Regions from separate parts of the Homo sapiens genome. Here region 1 is linked to region 2. The links come from fine-mapping of genetic effects on gene expression. Tissue or cell type: gastroesophageal junction. Region 2 holds a variant in brackets; the other region holds the start of a gene. All regions are shown on one strand. Distances are between the middles of the regions.

What was found. PIP is the estimated chance that this variant, and not a neighbour inherited with it, causes the effect. A credible set is the group of variants that fine-mapping cannot tell apart.
Region 1: it holds the start of C6, and the variant in region 2 is the best candidate, but not a certain one, in a credible set for the expression of C6 in gastroesophageal junction (GTEx, PIP 0.56).

Annotation. Positions count from the first base shown.
Region 1 is chr5:41,211,500-41,215,499 of GRCh38, forward strand. C6 (complement C6) reads right to left here and starts at 2,033. Exons shown (of 18, transcript NM_000065.5): 1 at 1,877-2,033.
Region 2 is chr5:41,185,958-41,189,957 of GRCh38, forward strand. It overlaps C6 (complement C6), which reads right to left. Exons shown (of 18, transcript NM_000065.5): 6 at 113-251. Among named protein-coding and RNA genes, the nearest start is that of C6, 26 kb to the right of the region's middle. The variant G/A (reference allele first, on the strand shown) is at 2,232.

The sequences.
Region 1 (4,000 bases), 26 kb after region 2:
GGGACAATAGTAGCCAGATAGAATTTAAGTCGTGATCAGACATATAATGTGAGTCCCAAACATTTGGGAGCTGAGGCTCCCAAATAATGTGAAGCTTTCCTTTCAACCACTAGATAGACTAGAGAAGCCACTCCCCTATACCCTTCACCCTTGCCCCCCACTGCCAAAATTGGAATTTTCTCATACAGGGACCTTTTCAGCAAGAAAAACTAAATAGATACTTTGTTGTTGTTTTTTTTTCTTATTAGATGTTGGACAAGACAGATATCTTCCAGAATATTTCCTCAATTGTAGAGAAAACAAATTCTTAAAGCTTCTGGTGAAATTTTCATGTAAATAATTTGGAGAAGTTAAATTGCAAGAGATTACTAATTCTCAGTTCTCAGCAGACACTGTCTTTTAACTTCCAAAAGCTTGAAAGGTATGGGTGAGTTTTATTCCAATTATCATCAAAAACTGCAAAAACAGAACCCTTATAAAATATTCTGATCGCTCTTTAAGCTATAACTGTTCTGAGGCAATATGGAGCCTGATATAAATTAAGATGGTAACATTAAAACTTATTTGATGAGGTACTAATGAAAGAGCTAATTGGTAGCTTTTCTTTTTTAATATTCTATTATTAGGAATACAAATTGTTTTATGTTAAAACAATTTTATTTTTATTTATTTATTTTTTTGAGACAGAGTTTCATTCTTTCACCCAGGCTGGACTGCAGTGGCAGGATCTCAGCTCACTATAAACTCAGCCTCCTGGGTTCAAGCAATTCTCTGCCTCAGCCTCCCGAGTAGCTGGGATTACAGGCCCCTGCCACCACACCCAGCTAATTTTTGTATTTTTAGTGAACTCGGGGTTTCACCATTTTGGTCAGGCTCGTCTTGAACTCCTGACCTTGTGATTCACCTGCCTCGGCCTCCCAAAGTGCTGGGATTACAAGCGTGAGCCACCAAGCCCAGCAACAATTTTTAATCAAATAAAAATAATTACTTCTCTGAATTTTTTTGTTATGATGGCCTAGCATATTGTATTATATGGTTTCTTATTTATTAATTTCCACATCTCTAGGCATTCTGGAGGTATCTAAAATTACACACAGGCATTTTACCCATTACTGTACAATTTTCATACAAACATAGAATAAAAGAATGTTCGGTCAATAGAGGAAGATAGGAAAAAAGTCTTCCACTTCAGTGCCATCGTAGAAAAGCAGAAATTCTTCAGTTTTCTCATAGTTGCCATCCCCTCTTGAGTTTTCCAAAAATCAGTGATCCCATTGAACCATTGATGATAGCTTTATGAGCATTTAGAGAATTTCAATTAAAATGAAGCCCATCTTATTCTAACCTGTCACTTTCTAATGTATTTTACTCACATGAACCATTTGTCTGCAAGGCAGTTCAGCATATCTTACCCAACAGATTTCTGAGGATGCTCTAGTTTATCCCCAGCTATAGGTTCTTCCTTTACATCTCCATGTAAACTTACTGAATTTCTTATTTCTTATTATTTTTTTCTGTGCATGCCCAGAGGCTCAAGAAATGAGCCTTTCTATCTTTCTACCTTTACTATCGCCAAGGTAAGCTGGGTAGTCCAGGTGCATGACTGACCTTGGCTAAAGAGTATGTTTGCTTTACTTTTAACTAATTTAACTCATAGAGAAACTTGATCTCAAATGTCCTCTGGAATGACATTTGTTTAAAAAACATGACCTCTGGTTCTTTTCAGATTTAAACAAAGCAATTATAAAAAAGAAAGACAAAGAAATGGTTATAGTCTGAGTTACATATTTTTATGCATGAAATTGTAATTTTGTTGGAAACATGATTAACAATTTTGAAATATTAAGATTGAAAATGAAATCATCATATTACTCACCTTTAAGCAGAGTTTGTGGTGTCCTCGGACCTAAGCTGCAAATTATTGGGGAAAAAATAGGTATGCAGAATGAAGAGGGTATATATGTTAATCCAAACAAAGCTTCTTTTCTTATTGCTAGCTAACACAAGGCAATGCTGTCATATCCCAGAAGCCTAGCAACACCTAGAGGGTTGTCAAAATAAATGTTCTCTGGAACTTGAACTTTGCAAATGATTACACCAATCAGTAGTAACCCTGAAACTCTGGGTGTTGGATGTTACACAGAGTCCTGAATTTTCAGTGAGTTTTCAATTCAAGGGCTATTGTAGTAGCTATTGCTACTGCATAGAAATCTCTCTTTCCATTTTAAAGAATCCTTTAGATTAATTGCTTAAAATTGCTGCCCCCCTTAGGAATGTATAGATTCTTAGTTTTTGATTATAGAATAGTTATTGGTAACTATTTAAGAAATGTTTTTGGAGACAATGTGATTGTGTATGTAGAAAATTCAAAAGAATCTACAAACATTAGAATTAATAAATGAATTTAGTATGATTTATCAACACAAGTTTATTATAGTAAAAAGTGTTTCTATATGCCAGCAAAACCAAACAGAAAATTTAATTTGGAAAGAATTAAAATAGCAATGATCAAATGGGCTCTTTATATGTAATGATGATTACGCTTCTCTGAAATGGTTGCAATTTAACTTTAGATTGAAGTAAAATGGATTTCATCCTAAGGTGAAGCAGAACAAAATAGTGCAATAGAAAAGAAAAAAAACTATAGGGACTGAGAATGTGGATACATATTCTAGTCTTGTTTCTGCACTAAGCAGCTACCAGCTATGTGAGCTTCAATAAATCACTATACCTCATTGGAACACTGGTCCCTCATTTGTAAAACAAGTGTTTTTCAAACTTTTTTCAAAGCAGTAGAAAACAACTAAAACAAATATTCCTTAGACAGCTTAGATTTTTATCACATGGTGGGAAATGATGATCTCAGCAAGTCTAAAGATTACTTGAAACACAGCTGGGAACCCACCACTCAAAGGTCACATAGTTTAATATACATGGTAGTAACTTTCCCAAGGCCAGAGTAAGTCAGAACTGGAATACAGATGATCTGATTTCCAGTCTTTTTTCTCTCTCTTATACTACATTGAGATTTTAAAGATTGAAATTTGGGCCTAAAGAGAAAGTAGAGTGGTGTGCTGCAGACCAGTGTTGAAGCTAGTTTGGGGCTGGGATAGCAGCTTCACCCTTGATTACCTGAGAAGATAAACAGGAAAAGAAATATTTGGTGATTGGACAAGAATATATGTCATTTAATTTGCATATTTCTTTCTTTAATTGGTCTTTGAGGTCCTAAAATAAAATTCATTTGTCCTGAGTTCAAGGTGTTTGGAGCTAAAGGCAAATACTGGAAGTCATAATACAGAGAGATGCAAAGTTAGGTGCCAGTAGGATGAGCTTAAAGAGGACTTTATTTGTAATGTGGGCTATGAAGAGGACAGAGAAGTAAGATTGTATGCTGTGGCACTGGAAAAACACAGGTGGAGAGAGTTAAGGATGGTAAGGGGAAATCCTTGAGATGGAATGCGAATGTCTGTGATCCAAACACTAGAATTGACCCAGCACCAACTAAGAATCTAGAATCTTTTCAACAATGTATTTGGGTTCTCCATCTTGGGTTCTTTTGGAAGGTTAAATGACATATCTCACTCATGAGTCCTTTTTCTAGAGCAGGGATTGGTAAACTAGCCTGATGCCCGTTTTTGTAAATAACGTTTTATAGGAATAAAGTCACACAATTGGCCATTGTTTATGGTTGCTTTTGTGCTACAATGGTAGAGTTAAGAAGCTGGCAACAGAGGCTCTCCAGCCTGAAAAGCCTAAAATATTTACCGTCTGGCCCTTATAGGAAAAGTTGCAACCCAGAGAGAAATATTTCTGGTCTGATACATACAACAAAGTGTCCAGTGGCTTTGGGAAGTAGAAGTAGGCTAATTGGGACTGATGAGTAGGTGATTGTTTCAGAGCTAGGAATTGAATACTTGTGTGCAGTTGTGCTCAGGTCTGACTCTGTGCATGCAAAGAATATAGGTGTTCTCTAAACAATATTTAGATGTGTGCTGCT
Region 2 (4,000 bases):
ATGGTTCACCACCTTTTTATTCTGTCCCTTCATTCATCACTAATTTTGCATGAGAAATTTAGCTTATAATCACTGACGGTGTTGGAGTTGCCACCATGCTAGGCTGTCATACCTCAAAGCCGACATTTTCCAGATTGGCCGGAACACGGTATGGATTACTTGTCCTACTGCTTTTGACAGTTTTACATATTCCTCCAGTGAAAGAGTTATCAAGGACTTCTCCTCTGGGCTCTCCTGCCAGAAAATGAAACCTAGAAACAAAGTAATTTTCAGGAATTCAACAGATGTAGAACAATCTTTAAAATTTACCTTAGTTATATGAAAGGAATTCCTCTTCTAAACCTTTTTGCCTCAAGACAAATGACTTGAAGGAATCCCCCACACCTCCGCTTTTTTTTCCTAGTCCATGGTGAGGCATGCAAGGAAGCTGGAAAGCCCAAACTCAGCTTCTCTGGCTCTATTAGGTTCTCCTATTCCACTTACTTAATTGTTCTTGGCTTTCAACATACAACAAAATCTGGATTTATAATTTTTTATGACTTACAAAGCCAGTGCAAAGTTTGGAAGCAGATTATGAAATAAGTTATTATATAATAAATGCTATCCCAGGTCTACTTCTTTCTGAGTGGAATTCTAATAGAGAGCTCATAATAAAATAGTAACAGCAATATTTTAATGGAATTGTAATAATATTATAGTTTTACTAATAACTGACTATAATATTTAAAATATATTTTATTTAACAAATGCTTATATACTATTTACTATAAGCCAAGCAATAGTAAGTGCTTTACAAATATTAACTTGGTTAAGTACTTTACTAATAATAACTTATATTTATTACAACCATATGATGTAGATATAATTATTATACCTGTTTTACAAATGAGGACATTGAGGCACATAGAGATTAATTAGCTTAGCATAAATCAACTATTTAAGAGGTTATTTTGTTATAGATAAAAAAACTTCTCCAAGATGCTAATGCTTTTCCAAATTCTAAGAGATATTAATATGTATTCTGTGAAAAAAGTAGTTTTTTTGTCAAACAGTTTGGTAATGCTGTATTACATAGATTATAAAAATCGTTTTCTACAGGTCATGTCACAGCCTTAAAAATATAAATTGTCAGTCTCCAAGTACATTTGACCAAATAACCTTGTCTTTCATAGAACATGTAGTGTAGTTCTACAGAATATCACTGGAAAATTCCATGTAGCAGAAGGAATAGCACCAATGCCCTTCCCTTCTCATGACCCTTCAGTACACCCATCCCTTCTGATAGTTGTGGGGGCTCAAGGGAACTCTAAACATCCTCAAGAATGTCATTGACCACTTACATGTCTGTTTCCCTTGTACTTCTATGGCATTAACTCACAAGACAAAATGTACCTGAAAGGCACCACCTTTACCAGAGCTGAAATATTAAGTTTTGTAACTATCACAAAGATCTGAAAAAAAGACAAATAGACTCATTCATTTGTGAGGGAATCAAGAAGCAGTTCACTATGGGAGGCTTTTGCGATCTATTAGACATTTGGATTTAAAGCAGAAAATTCGACCAATTACTCAGGCGCTTCTAACCAAGGGGCACAATATTTTTCTATCAAAGAGGAGCAAGGATAGTTTGAAAGTTGTAAAGTGATGTTAGAATACTGAAAAGAAAGTAAGGCTAATATAAATACTTGTAAATTCTCTACCAATAAAATTGTGTTAATGTAAAAGTACACAGACACACACATACACACACACACACACACACACACACAGCTTTTAAGTTTCTGAAATGGTTTCTTCACTTGAAAATGGAGCTAATTGCTTTTTTATAGTAGTTGTGGAAATTAATAGTGACTAGCACAGGCCTGGCCTGCCCTATGAAAGGAAACAATACATACTATCTCTCCCATTTTTTCCACCAGGGAAAGTATATTTTAATTTTATTAAAAGGTTGCATACTAAGTTCAAAAGTAATTGCTTGCAGAAACAAAATCAACAAACAAAAATCAAATGTATTTCCCTACAAATAGCAATGAACAATCCAAAAATAAAATTACAGAAACAATTCCATTTATAATAGCCTCTCAAAGAATAAAATCCTCAGGTATTTATTTAACAAAAGAAGTCTAAGACTCATATACTGAAAAGTATAAACAATGTTGAAAGATATTAAGTGAAATCTCAATGAATAGAAAGACATTCCATATTAGTGGATTGGCAGAATTTGTGTTGTT[G/A]AGATAGCAGTACTTCCCAAATTGATTTATAGATTCAAGACAATCATTATCAAAATCTCAGCTGCCTTTTTTTGGTAAAAATTCACAAGACAATTCTAAAATTCAAAAGACCCAGAACAGCCAAGAGAATCGTGAGAAAGAAGGACAAAGTTCAAGGAATTACCTTCCTGATACACAATTTACTTCAAAATTAGGGTCATCAAGACAGTGTAGTAGTACTGGCATGAGGATAGACAGACATATAGATCAATGGAACAGAAATGCATCTAGAAATAAACCCATACATCTATGGTCAATTGATTTTCAACAAGGGTGCCAAGACAGTTCAATGGGGAAAATAGTCCTAAATGAATGGTGCTGTAATGACCTAATGGTTATATTGCAAATGAATGAAATTGGGCCCCTTTCTCACATAATGCAAAAAAATTAATCAAAATAGATAATAGAACCTAAATTTAAGAGCTGAAACTATAGAACTTTTAGAAGACAATATAGGACTAAATATTTGTGAACTCCAGTAAGACAAAGCCTTCTTAGATATGACATTAAAAGCACATTCAACAAAAGAAGAAATAAATATATTGAACTCCACCAGAATTAAAAACTTTAGTGCTTTAAAGGACACCAACAAAAAAGTGAAAATACAACTCATATAATGGGAGAAAATATTTCCAAGTCACATATCTAATGAGGAACTTACACCCAGAATATACAAAAAATGCTTGGAACTAAATAAAAAAACCAAATTACTCAATTAAACCATGAGCAAATAATTTGAGTATCTAAATATATAGTTCTTTGAAAAAATATGAAAATGACTAATAAGCATGTGAAAAAATGCTCAAAGTTATTAGTCATTAGGAAATACAAATCAAACCTGCGATGAGATACCAGTTCATAGCCATTAGAATAGCTTTAACCAAAAGATGAACAGAAACAGTTTTGATGAAGGTGTGGAGAAGTTGATTTTCAATCATATGTAACTGGGGGAAATGAAAAATGGTGCAGCTGTTTTGGAAAATAGTTGGGAGTTCTTCAAAAATTAAATGTATAATTACCATAAGACCCTGCAATTCCATTCCTAAGTATATATGAAAGAGAATTGAAAATATATATCAATGCAAAAACTTGTACATGAATGTTCATAGCAGCATTACTCATACTAGTCAAAGTAGGAACAAACCAAATGTTCATTAGCTGATGAATGAATCAACACAATGTGATAGAATGATACAATGGGTTGTTATTCTCTCATACAATGGAATGAAGTATTAACATATGCTTTATATGGGTGATTTTTAATATTACATTTTTAAAAATTGTCACATAATTGTACATATTTATGGGGTACGTAGTGATGTTTAGATACATACAATGTATAGTAATAAAATCAGGGTAATTAGCATATTCATCACCTCAAACATGTTGGGAATATTCAAAATTTTCTCTTCTCGGTATTTGAAAATATGTACTAAATTATTGTTAACTATAGTCACCTGCAATGCTATAGAACACTAGAACTTATTCCTCTTATCTAGCTGTAATTTTGTAACCTTTAACCAATCTCTTCCTATCCTCCCCTTCCCCTACTCTTTCCAGTCTCTTGTAACCCTTATTCTAATCTACTTGTATGAGATCAACTTTTTAAGCTTCTGCATGTGAGTGAGAACATGTAGTATTTATGTTTTTGTTTCTGGCTTATTTCACTTAATATCCTCCAGGATCATCCATGTTTCTCCAGTGACAAGGTTTCATTCTATTTTATGGCT